Homo sapiens: one gene and its partners. The protein of the gene in region 1 interacts with the protein of each later gene in a biochemical or structural test. Each region holds a gene or a part of one and is shown on either strand. Other genes may lie near its edges. The genes, in order: ELK1, FLI1 and MAPK9.

Evidence for each region.
Region 2: the proteins of ELK1 (region 1) and FLI1 form a complex in vitro, tested with the Homo sapiens proteins (one study listed by BioGRID).
Region 3: of the proteins of ELK1 (region 1) and MAPK9, one has a biochemical effect on the other in vitro, tested with the Homo sapiens proteins (2 studies listed by BioGRID).

The regions. Positions count from the first base shown.
Region 1 is NC_000023.11:47,643,937-47,647,686, reverse strand, and holds part of ELK1 (ETS domain-containing protein Elk-1), read left to right. Parts: intron 1-3,750. UniProt on the Homo sapiens protein: Transcription factor that binds to purine-rich DNA sequences. Forms a ternary complex with SRF and the ETS and SRF motifs of the serum response element (SRE) on the promoter region of immediate early genes such as FOS and IER2.
Region 2 is NC_000011.10:128,767,033-128,770,782, forward strand, and holds part of FLI1 (Friend leukemia integration 1 transcription factor), read left to right. Parts: intron 1-1,085; coding exon 1,086-1,240; intron 1,241-3,750. UniProt on the Homo sapiens protein: Sequence-specific transcriptional activator. Recognizes the DNA sequence 5'-C[CA]GGAAGT-3'.
Region 3 is NC_000005.10:180,243,387-180,247,136, reverse strand, and holds part of MAPK9 (mitogen-activated protein kinase 9), read left to right. Parts: exon of another isoform or gene 1-1,117; intron 1,118-3,750. UniProt on the Homo sapiens protein: Serine/threonine-protein kinase involved in various processes such as cell proliferation, differentiation, migration, transformation and programmed cell death.

The DNA of each region.
Region 1 (3,750 bases):
TCCCATGAATAAATGGGAAAAAGATAATTTGAGACACCAGTGTAGGGGTCACATGAGGAAGAAGAAGGGATATGAGAGCTAATTAGTTGGGACTGTTCCTGCAACCAACCTTTACTGAGCCCCTTGTGAGTACCAGGCACTCTTCTAGGTGCTGGAATATGGCAAGGAACGAAACAGGGCGAAATATTTGTGCTTGTGGAGCTGACATTTATTAAAAGTTGGGGAGGCTGGGCACGGTGGCTAACACCAGTAATCCTAGCACTTTGGGAGGCTGAGGTGGGTGGATTGCCTGAGCTCAGGAGTTCAAGACCAGCCTGGGCATCACGGTGAAACCCCATCTCTACTAAAATACAAAAAAATTAGCTGGGTGTGGCGGCGTGCGCCTGTAATCCCAGTTACTTGGGAGGCTGAGGCAGGAGAATTGCTTGAACCCAGGAGGCGGAGGTTGCAGTGAGCCAAGATTGCACCATGCACTCCAGCATGGGTGACAGAGCGAGACTCTGTCTCAAAAAAAAAAAAAAAAAAACCCAAGCTGGGGAGACAGACTATGTGAACAAAATAAATAAGTAAAATTAGCATAATAGACAAATGCTGAGAAGAAATAATGAAATAGGGCAGGTAGGAATCGAGTATTGGGGGTGGTTGAAATCTTAGGCATAGGGAAGGTGACTCTTGAATTAGGGCCTCACGGTAGAGACGGAGAGAGCCTTAATGTCTACGGGAAGAGCATACCAGGCAGAAGGAAGTGCCAGTTCAGAGGCCCTGAGGTGGGATGGTGCCTGCCATGTTCAAGGAACATCAAGGCGGCCAGTGTGGCTGGAGCAGAGTGCGGGGAAGGGTAGAAGGTGAGGTCACACAGGTGATGGGAGCCAGATAGTGCAGGTGATACATAGGATAGGATTGCAGGGGCAGGGGGAGAAGGATGACACACTAGCTAATAGCTAATATCTGTGGAGTATCTGCCACACATCAGAGGCACTTTTCTGTTCAAATACCAACCCCCAAAGGATGTTTACCACACGGTGGTGCCTGGAATGCACTACAAAAAGATACATGTGTCAAAGATATTTCTAAGAATGCCAGTTTATATATGAATAAGGATTTTCCTCCTTTTCAAAAGGATATGTTCACAAAACTGAGGTATGTAATATGCTCTATGGAGGCACAGGTATAAAAGCTGTTTCTAAGAGTGCTAGTTGTATATGTGAATAAGGACTGTGTTGTTGCATTGAAAGAATGTGTTCACAAAACTGTGGTGTATAGCTGGGCACAGAGGCTGAGGTGGGAGGATCACTTGAGCCCAGGAGTTCCAGGCCAGCCTGTGCAACATAGTGAGATCCCCGTCTCCGAAAAAAAACCCAAAAAATAACCACTGTGGTGTGCATAATACACTCTCCTAAAGGCACAGGCATAAAAGATGTTTCTAAGAGTGATTTGATTTTCTGGCACCTGGGTAGTGTTATTTCAGTAAATATTCATTGTTAAACACTATGGTGCTTGGAATATACTATACAAAGGCACATGTATAAAAAAGAAGTTCCTAACAATGCTACTTGTAAAAACAAAAAAAAAAGTCAACCCCTCAAGTCTTTTACAGAAGTATTTTACAGAATTGACACAGTTAATCCTCACAGAAGCCTTGGAGGGTAGGTGTACTTTTGAGAATATTTGACTTTGAGAGTAAAATATCCCCATTTTACAGATGAGGAAACAAGCAAAGAGAGGCTGAGTAACTTGCTCAGGGTAACCTTGAGCCAGAATAGCCAGAACAGGGGCAGAGGAACATAAGGCTGAAGACTCAGAAAGAAGAACAGATTTGCAAGGGCAGGCAGGTTATTTGGCACCTTTGATCACGCAGAGGAAGAATGAATTCTTCCTGGAATGCGATGATTGTGTAATTGAGTCCATGAAGTGAGGGAAGAGCTCTCCCTGCGGGGAGAGCAGCCCGTGCTTACCCTCAGAGGTTGGAACTGTCTCGGGAACGGTAGATAGTTCAGGGTGGCTGCCTCAGAGCCTTTGTACACGCCGTTCGCTCCGCCTGAAGGCCCTCCCCCACAGAGGGCAGCCTGGCTTGCTACCTCCCCTCCTTCAGGCCAGGTGTCACTTCCTTGGGGAAGAACTCCTTGTACACCCTGTGTAAAAACAGCATTCCTGTCACTCTCTAGGATCTTACCCTTCTCTGTTTCTCTTCATGGAGAACTGGTGGTGTAAGGCGATTGCTCACTAGAGCCAAACCACTTAGGTTTTGAATTCCGGCTCTGCCAACTTCCAGCTGTGTGACTTGGGGCAGGTTACTTCTCTGTACCTCCATTGCCTCATGTGGAAAATGGGGGAAATGATAATCCCCACCCTTTAACGGTGGTTTGAGGATTCAATGAGTTAAATGATTCAAAGAGTGTGCAGCCCACGGTAAGGATCGTATGCCTGGCTTGCATTTTTAAATTATTAAAATGTATTCATAGCATACCCGTAGATGTCTGACAGGCCTCTGAAACTGACCATCTCCAAAACTGGTGTGACCCCCCTCAAAACTTACTCTCCTGCAAGGCTCCCACCTCAGCTGACCACAATGCTGTCTTTGTGGGTGATTAGGCCACAAACCTAGACTCACCCTGGACCCTTCTCTCACCTCCCCCGGGCATGCTATCTGTCAGCAAGTCCTATTCTGTGTTCAGGCTTTCTCCAGACCCCAGCTACTTCTCGCCAGCCCCACTGCTACCACCATCATCTACCGCAGTGGCTTCTTCAGCCCCAACAGTCTGTTCTTCTCACAACCGCCAGGGGGATCCTGTTGAAATCTCAGTCACAGCCTGTCATCCCTCTGTTCACAACCCTCTTGTGGCTCCTGTCTCACTCAACATCCTGACAGCACCCGAAAAAGCCTGGCTCAGTCTGGCCCCCGTCACTCTGTTCTCCTCTCCCGCTGCCTCCCTCCTCTCCCCCGAACCCATGTCAGCCTCCTCTCCCCATGTCACCTGCCAGGCACTCTCCAGCCTTGGGCCCTTCACACCGGCTGCCGCTTCCACCTGGCTTGCTGCTCTCAGATACTCACGAGCTCAGTTCCTTCACCTCCTTTTGGTCTCTGCCCAGTTGTCCCCTCCTTGGCGACTACTCTCCCCTGACTCTCCATGTAAAAGTAACAGCTCTCCCCTGCTTGATTTTTTTCCCATAACCCTTACCACCATCTGACGCACTCTTGTACATGTTTGCCTTTTTTCTCATCTGCCTTTCCTGCTAAGATGTGAGCTCCTCTGGAGCAGGGATTGTTGTCTGTTGCGTTCTCGACTGTATCCGCAGCACCTGGCCCACAGTATGCACTCACCAAATGCTTGCTAAGTGAAGGAGATGGAAAGAAGTAAACATATCTAAGCAAGGCAGATTACTAGAACTCTTATGAGGGGTCAAGTGGGAGAAATAACAAAATACAAAGCCCTGTGTGCTGTTGAAGCTGGAAGCCCACCGTCACCTTTCACTCAGCTGATAGGTTCTGTTGCAGCTGAAAGAAGAACTGGTAAAATTGCCTGTCTTTGCCACCAGGAGTCACTCTGAACTCTTTGGACTTCTGAAACAAGCCTGCCTGCAAAACAAATTCAGTGAGGTCTCTGGTGACAGGACTCTCTAATCGGACACTTCATGGCTTTGTGACTTGTATAATTGAACAGGAAGCTCATGTTTATTTCCAGTTTGCTCTCAGGAAAGAAAGCAGTAATGGGGTGACAGGGAGGATCCTGTTCTTTGAAGGACATGCTG
Region 2 (3,750 bases), on another chromosome or scaffold:
CACCTCCCCCAAGTATGCTGGAGGTGCGTGATGCTGGGCTGGAGGGCATGCAGAGTGTGTTTGCCAGCCAGCTTCAGGGCGCCAGGTGGCCATGGGTGGGACTTCACCCCTCCAGACAGCTGCCCATCACCAGTGCTGCAAAATACCAGGTGCTGATCAAGTTCTGTAGTTCTAGGCTAAGTTGGATGATCTGCTTTCTCTCTTGTGAATGTCCATACTGCTTCCACAGTGAGCTTGGGGCCAGGGATGCAAAATGCCACAGGGCCACCACCTCTCCATCAGGTGGAAGTTCCTGGACTCCATTCCTTCTCCAAGTAGCAACCAGCTCTTTTGCATGTGTGCTTGATAGTGAAGCTTAACACAGAAGACCTGAGTCCTGTTTCCACCTTGACTAGCTGTGTGACTGAGCCAGGCAGCCCCTGTCTCGATTTCATTAACCATGAAAAGGAGATAGTAACCCTTGCTGTGCCTATCCTGGGGGCTTATTGGGAAATTCGAATACAACAGTGCATAAGAAATGCATTAAACTTATATATGTGCAATAGAAATAACTCACTGAGAAAGCATTTGCTGCTCACCTCCTGTAAGAATACTAGGGTTAAACAAAGAAAGTGATGACTATCCTCTCAAGAACTCAGCAGTCAGGGGGCGCAGGCCAAGCTGAGAATCAGACAGTGTGACAAGTCCTTATAACCAAGGCGGGCACCAAGTGCTGGGGGACTGTGGGGAAGGCGTGTCTGGGAGCATGGACTAGGTTGCCTGGCAGTGAGGCTAAAAATGTAAGCTGCAGTCAGACAGGGAGGGCTGCGATGCCACACAAAGAAGCTCAGACCTTGGTCTGAGGGCACTGAGGCGCTGCCAGCAGTTTTTACGTACTGTAATTATAGGATTGGGCTGGGATTTGAAGAAAACTCTGGTGGCAGCATGGAGGATAGAAAGAGGGCATCATCATCATCATGACACCAAGTGTGGCCGGGCAATGGCTCCATGCTCATCATCGGAGCCCTGGGCTCATGATTCAGAGGCTGAGGCAAGCTGCCCTGTCAGTGCTGACCGCCTCTGGGCTTTGTCTCTTCTCACTTTAGGGAGTCTCCGGTGGACTGCAGCGTTAGCAAATGCAGCAAGCTGGTGGGCGGAGGCGAGTCCAACCCCATGAACTACAACAGCTATATGGACGAGAAGAATGGCCCCCCTCCTCCCAACATGACCACCAACGAGAGGAGAGTCATCGTCCCCGCAGGTAATTCGAGAACCAGGCTGCCTGGGCGCCATTCACTTCCCCACTCTCTGGGGGGGCAGGGAGCATCTAAACCTTTATCTGATACTCTATTCCCTGTGGAATTGCAAAATGGAGAAAGCTGCACGCCAGCCGGGAGTGGTGGCTCGCGCCTGTAATCCCAGCACTTTGAGAGGCCAAGACGGGTGAATCACTTGTCAGGAGTTCAAGACCAGCCTAGCCAACGTGGTGAAACCTCATCTCTACTAAAAAAAAAAAAAAATACAAAAATTAGCCAGGTGTGGTAGTGGACGCTTATATTCCCAGCTACTCAGGGGGCTGAAGCAGGAGACTCGCTTTAACCGGGAAGGCGGAGGTTGCAGGGAGCCAAGATCACACCACTGCACTCCAGCCTGGGTGATGGAATGAGACTCTGTCTCAAAAAAAAAAAAAAAAAAAAAAAGCTGCACATTTTACCTGACTTCCTAGCTGCCCTTTAAGGCAGTATCCCAGATGTCACCTGATGTGTGGGTGCTAGAAGCCCCACCCTTAAACAGACCACATCACAGACTCTACATCAATGGCCTGGTCCTCAAGGACGGGCTGCTCAGAGAGCAGAGGCAAGGCCGCCTCCACCCAAAAGGAATCCCGTGAGCTCTGGATGTGGGCATCCCTGCCTGTGAGGAGGAGGTCAGCTGCAGAGGCCAGTCCTTCCCTCCAGGCTCGTACTTCCCGGCATCTACCAGGTTCCACCTTTCCAAAATTACAGCCAGCTCTTTCAGTTTTAAAATAGAAAGAACTATATTTAACTAATGGAGTGCCTTAACATGTGTGCCACAAGTTATGTCATTAGGTAAAAATAGCCTCTTTTTCCTAGGTGTTGGTGCTGTTGGTCCCAGAAAATAAAATCATCGTTCAGTCCTTCAGTCCATTGGCTGGACACTCCACCCCAGCTAGCACCAGCAAGCTCAGCTGCCTGCACAAGAAGGGTGTTTACAAACTGCCACGTGTAGAACTGGTGCCAGGTAGAAGGGGCAAGGATGTCCAAATCTTAAGCAAAGTGATTACAGGGCAGGGATTAAACCTGATCTTACCAAAATAACTTTACCAGAGAGGCAAAACTCCTTCCATTTGTAAAAGCATAAATGTAGTTGCCTCTGAAGTCAAAAGGTTAGACATCTCTTTGAGGTAGTCCGAAGGCATCTGCTTGTAGGTCTAAAGGCAGAAATGTTAAGGGCTGCCTCCTGCCTTGGCCCGTGGTGTTTGTTTTCCCTGGGAAGCTGCATCTCACCATATCCCTGGATTACAGCTGCCTCCCTGTGCTCTGGGCCAAATTCAAGAAGGTGTGAGCAAGAGTGAGGCAGCAGACGGGTGGGGCTTGTAGAAATTTCTCTGTACCCTTTAGGACTTAGAAATGACTCCTAAAGCAATTCTAAGTTTGCTCTTCCACAAGCATCTGACCTAACAAAGGAAGAGGAAGAATCACTTCCATTTATTGAGTGCTTTCTAGGTGCCAGGCACCACGTAAATTGCTTTATCTCCATGGCATTACTTAAAACACCTGTCACAGGAGACCAGCTAGTAATGTTTAGCCCAGGTGTATCGTCTCCCTCCTCACTGAAAGCAGACAATGAAACTGTATTAGAACTGACAGGTGGGAATCTCTTTGTACAGCCCAAAGCAAAGCTGAGCCTCACTGGGTCTTCACTCAAATGGTTTCAAACTCCCCTGCTTCAGTCAAACAGCTCCCAGCCTGGGAGGGAAAGCTTGCTGGACTGAAGGGTTTGGGGATCTGAGATTGTCTTTGAACCAACCTTTGGCACCATCTCATTTTGGTCGTCATTTTGGGGAAGGAATCTTGGAAATGGGCAGAAGTGGCCAGACTGCTATGTCGACCCTCCAAACTTTCTTTGATCAGTGTTGAAATGCTTTCAAAAGGAATAGCAAAACATCAGGCTTGGCTGAGCCAAGTTACCTATAGCGCTGGTGGTGAAAATAAAACAAATTCATGTCAAATGATTTTCAAAGCACTTTCAGGCTATGGATTTACTTCATTATTTTAGCTCCGGCTAGATCTTTTAGGTCCTCACACATTTTGGCTTCCTCCAGGCCAGGCTGTGGATATGAGGGGAAGTCTCATTTGGGCAAGTCCACAAATCAAGGCAATAAAATATTAGTGGAATAACCGATTGAATTTATGATGGGATTTAAAGACAAGTATAAATGTGGGCCCTAGTTAATCACTAGCTCCATGTTCAGATGGGAAGAAACTAGGACTAAATCATCCAGGAAATGCATTTGGAAGAGTTTAGCATGATCCAGAGTTGAAGATTTATAATTCATTGTGCTGTAGAGGGAGAGTAATAATATTGTTGCAGAGCCCAAAGCAAGGGAGGAAATAATAAAATAAATAAAATATATGGTGTAAAATTGAATTTGAGGCCTTGGATACTAAAAGTGAGGAACTGGGAGAAGTGAAGAATGAAATAATATGCTACATAATCCAACTCTCCCGAGGATATGTTTCTCTAGAA
Region 3 (3,750 bases), on another chromosome or scaffold:
TAAGTATATTCTGATATTTAAATGAAAATACTGTATTATTTAGTTTATTCCGTTAATTTAACTAGGAAAGATGCTATCTAAATTTAATAGGCTAGTGTGCTTGTGTGCTTTAATTAAGTACTATTTTGTTAGTTACTGGTATGCATTGAAATATTTTCCCCCAAAGTAAGAACTGAAGCACATTACAAAGGACCTAAGTGAAAGAGATTAAAATGAAAATTTTGTGAGGAACAATATGTTAAACTTTCTTGTTTGTTACTGTGCTGACATTTTGTAGAATTTTTTTTAAAAATCTGTCTAGTGGGTTATTTTGTGACACACTGGGGAAGTCAAAATAAATGTAAAATGAAAGAGATAAACTCATACTGTAGTCAGCAAGTCATGTTAGAGATACAGCAGAAAGGAGAATAACTACTCTAATTGTTACAATAGCCTTCTTTCCTCATTTGCCATTCTTCCATCCTCAGTATTTTTTACCCTAACATGGTTCTTCACATCTTCCCTTTTTCATTTGTGTTTTAACCACTTAGTTTTTCATTAGTCTTTGACTTTGTTTTCGTTATGAAAGTTTAAATTGGTCTCCATCCTTGGGCAGATTGATGGTTGCTTTTAAGGAAATCAAGCTCCATAGTCAGTGTTTTGTATGTATCTTAGGAAAATAATTTCAGATTTTAATAATTTTATCAAAGTGGTCTCCTTATAAATTCTTCACAGTGCAAACTTAAAGTGAAAATATTTTTATTTCTCTCATTTTATTTACCTTTCTTTACATTTTCTATATCATAGATTATATAATATGTCAAGTTATTTTATTTGTTCTACTAAATTTTCTAGCAGTTTCCATAGCCTCATCTCAGATTCACTTGTTGCAACCTATAAATAAGGACGTCTTTATTTTGCAAGTAAACTTAATTAAAAAGGGAAAAGTTGAAAAATTAAAAGACTAATAATTTAGAAATATCTACTTAATGTTCAGTTTGTCTCAATTCTTACTCATTTTGTGCCATTCCTTGTTTTATTACAAAATGTTTTCTTCAAAAAGTACAAAAATGAAAAATGTGAGTACTTTTTGGTGCATTTTAGTAAGTAAAATTAAAATTCCTGCTATACATATGAACATTAATGTCAGTAATTAATAGTGTTATATATAAGGTTACCTAATGTTATTCCCAAAAGCCACACAGAGTTTAACATCATTTTCTAAAGAAAATTTTGCCAACTCTTTCAAATATTAGATTGAAATTTGGGAGATAGAAAAAAGTTGCAGAAATCAGACTGAGGGTCTCAGAGATTTGCTTTAATTTGCGACCCAGGGTAGAAAAGGAACTCCTGTCCCTGCGGTGGTCTATGAGAAAGAGAAAGCTTTAGCCCGGCCACCTCGGGCCCCAGCTCAGACTCCTCCCCTTGGCAGCCATGCATCCTTGAGAAATTTAGGGCCTCTCTGAGCCTTGGTTTCCCCTTCTGTAAAATAGACCTGTGGTCTGCCTGCAGCTTCACGAGAGTTAGACAACAGGGTCCACTGGGCTTGTCGGAATTATTGTTCCCCTTCCCCCGTCCCTCTCATCTGTCCCCCATCCCTCCCACCTGTAGGATGCTGGGGTGGAGTCCTCTCGGGGAATCTGTGGGTCTCCTCTCACAACTGGTTTAATTTCTAGTCCTTTATCATTAACCCAGCAGATATTTCTCTCACCTGCCCATTTCTGGGTGCCTAGTCTGACTGAGATGCAAAGAGGCTCCTCCCAGCTGCTGAATTGAGGGTGGATCGTCAAGGGCAGGGCAGAGCAGGAGAACAGAGCAGAGGCTGCCATCATCCAGAGGAGAGGTGGAGGCCCCCAGCAGGCGGGTAGGGGTGTGGCCGGGGAGATGGGCTTGTACTCTGCTTTGAAGCTGGACCCTTCAAGGAGCCTTGCTAGGGTTTGGAGATGTCTGTTAGACAGTGGAATTTAGGGGCAAGGTCTGGGATAGAGAGATCAAAGTGGGTGTCATCCGTCTGTCGGTAGCCTTGAAGCCTAGGACTGGTAGCGAGCACTTGCAGGGGAGGAAGAGACCAGGACCCGGGACTTAGCCCCCTTGAGGTGGAGGGACAAAGGGAATAGGGAAGGAAATGGAGAAGGCACTCACGTGACCCCTCCTCCTAGAGTGTGGTGACTGAGGGAGGCTCATTCACATGAGGAGATGAGGACGGGGGATTGGCCCCTGGGCCTTGTGATGGCTGCTGGCAGCCATGATGGGCACAGCATTTATGGAGTGGAGGGAAGAAAGCCTGATGGGAGTATGTTTGAGAGAAAATGAGAGGCTGGGAATTAGAGACACAAGTGTAGACAGCTCTTTTTTCTTTCCTTTTTTTTTTTTTTTTTTCCTTTGAGACAGAGTCTCACTCCATTGCCCAGGCTGGAGGGCAGCGATGCGATCTCAGCTCACTGCAACCTCTACCTCCTGGGTTCAAGCGATTCTTCTGCCTCAGCCTCCCGAGTAGCTGGGATTACAGGCGCCCGCCACCACGCCTGGCTAATTTTTGTATTTTTAGTAGGGCCAGGGTTTCACCGTCTTGGCCAGGCTGGTCTTGAACACCTGACCTTGTGATCCACCTGCCTCGGCCTCCCAAAGTGCCGGGATTACAGGTGTGAGCCACTGAGCCCGACCGACAGCTCTTTATGGAAGTTTTTGCTGCAAATAGGAATAAGAAATAAAGCGATAGGTAGGGCCAAAGGAAAGCAGCTACTGTGTTAACATAGGAGAAAACACCATCATTTACCAACGTGGTGGAATGTATTGGTAGAGTGCAAAATGTCGATGATGTTGGAGAAGGAAGAGTTGAGGGAGCTTGTCCTTGAGTCAGGGGGGTTAGGGTCTAGAGCTGAGCAGGCTTAGTGTAGCCGGGAGCCCAGATGGTTGCTGTGTGGCAAATGGCACACAGATGCTGGGTGGGTGCATCCTGGGAAGTCTGTGGGAGTGAGCAGGCAGAAGAGGTATCAAAAGTATAAGGTGGGCTGGGCGCAGTGGCTCACACCTATAATCCCAGCACTTTGGGAGGCCGAGGCAGGCAGATCACTTGAGGCCAGGAATTCCAGACCAGCCTGGCCAACATGGCGAAACCCCATCTCTACTAAAAATAACAAAAATTAGCCGACCGTTATGGCAGGTGCCTGTAGTCCCAGCTACTTGGGAGGCTGAGGCACGAGAATTACTTGAGCCCGGGAGGTGGAGGTTGCAGTCAGCCGAGATCATGCCACTGCACTCCAGCCTGGGCGACAGAGCGAGACTCTGTCTTTATTTATATATGTATATATGGCAGAAGGAAAAGGTGTGAGACAGTTTTCACATTTTGGCTAAATAGGTAAATAAAATGTGGGCATAATTCTGATTTGACAATATGTATGAACCAGGAGTAGGAAGGAGAATTTGCTAGTGAATTGAATGCCAGAAACACATTTCCTGAGCGGGTCTTTTGGAAGTATAACATTTTGGAAGAACTGAGTTCATGTACCAGTTCCCTAGGTTATTTCATGGTGATGTAAGTTCATTTTTCTAAGACATGCCTCAGTGAGCACTTTTTTAAGCTGCTGTTGATGCTATTTTTTTCTCACTTGCATTCTCTTGTATAGCGAGTACAGTTTCAGTGTCACTTTCCCACATGTAATCCTAATTATCCCAAGCCTAACAAGCACCCTGTGGAATAGGCAAAGCTGGTAATGTCTGCATTGAACAAATAAGGAAACAGACCCCAAGGAAGCCTGACTTTCCTGACAC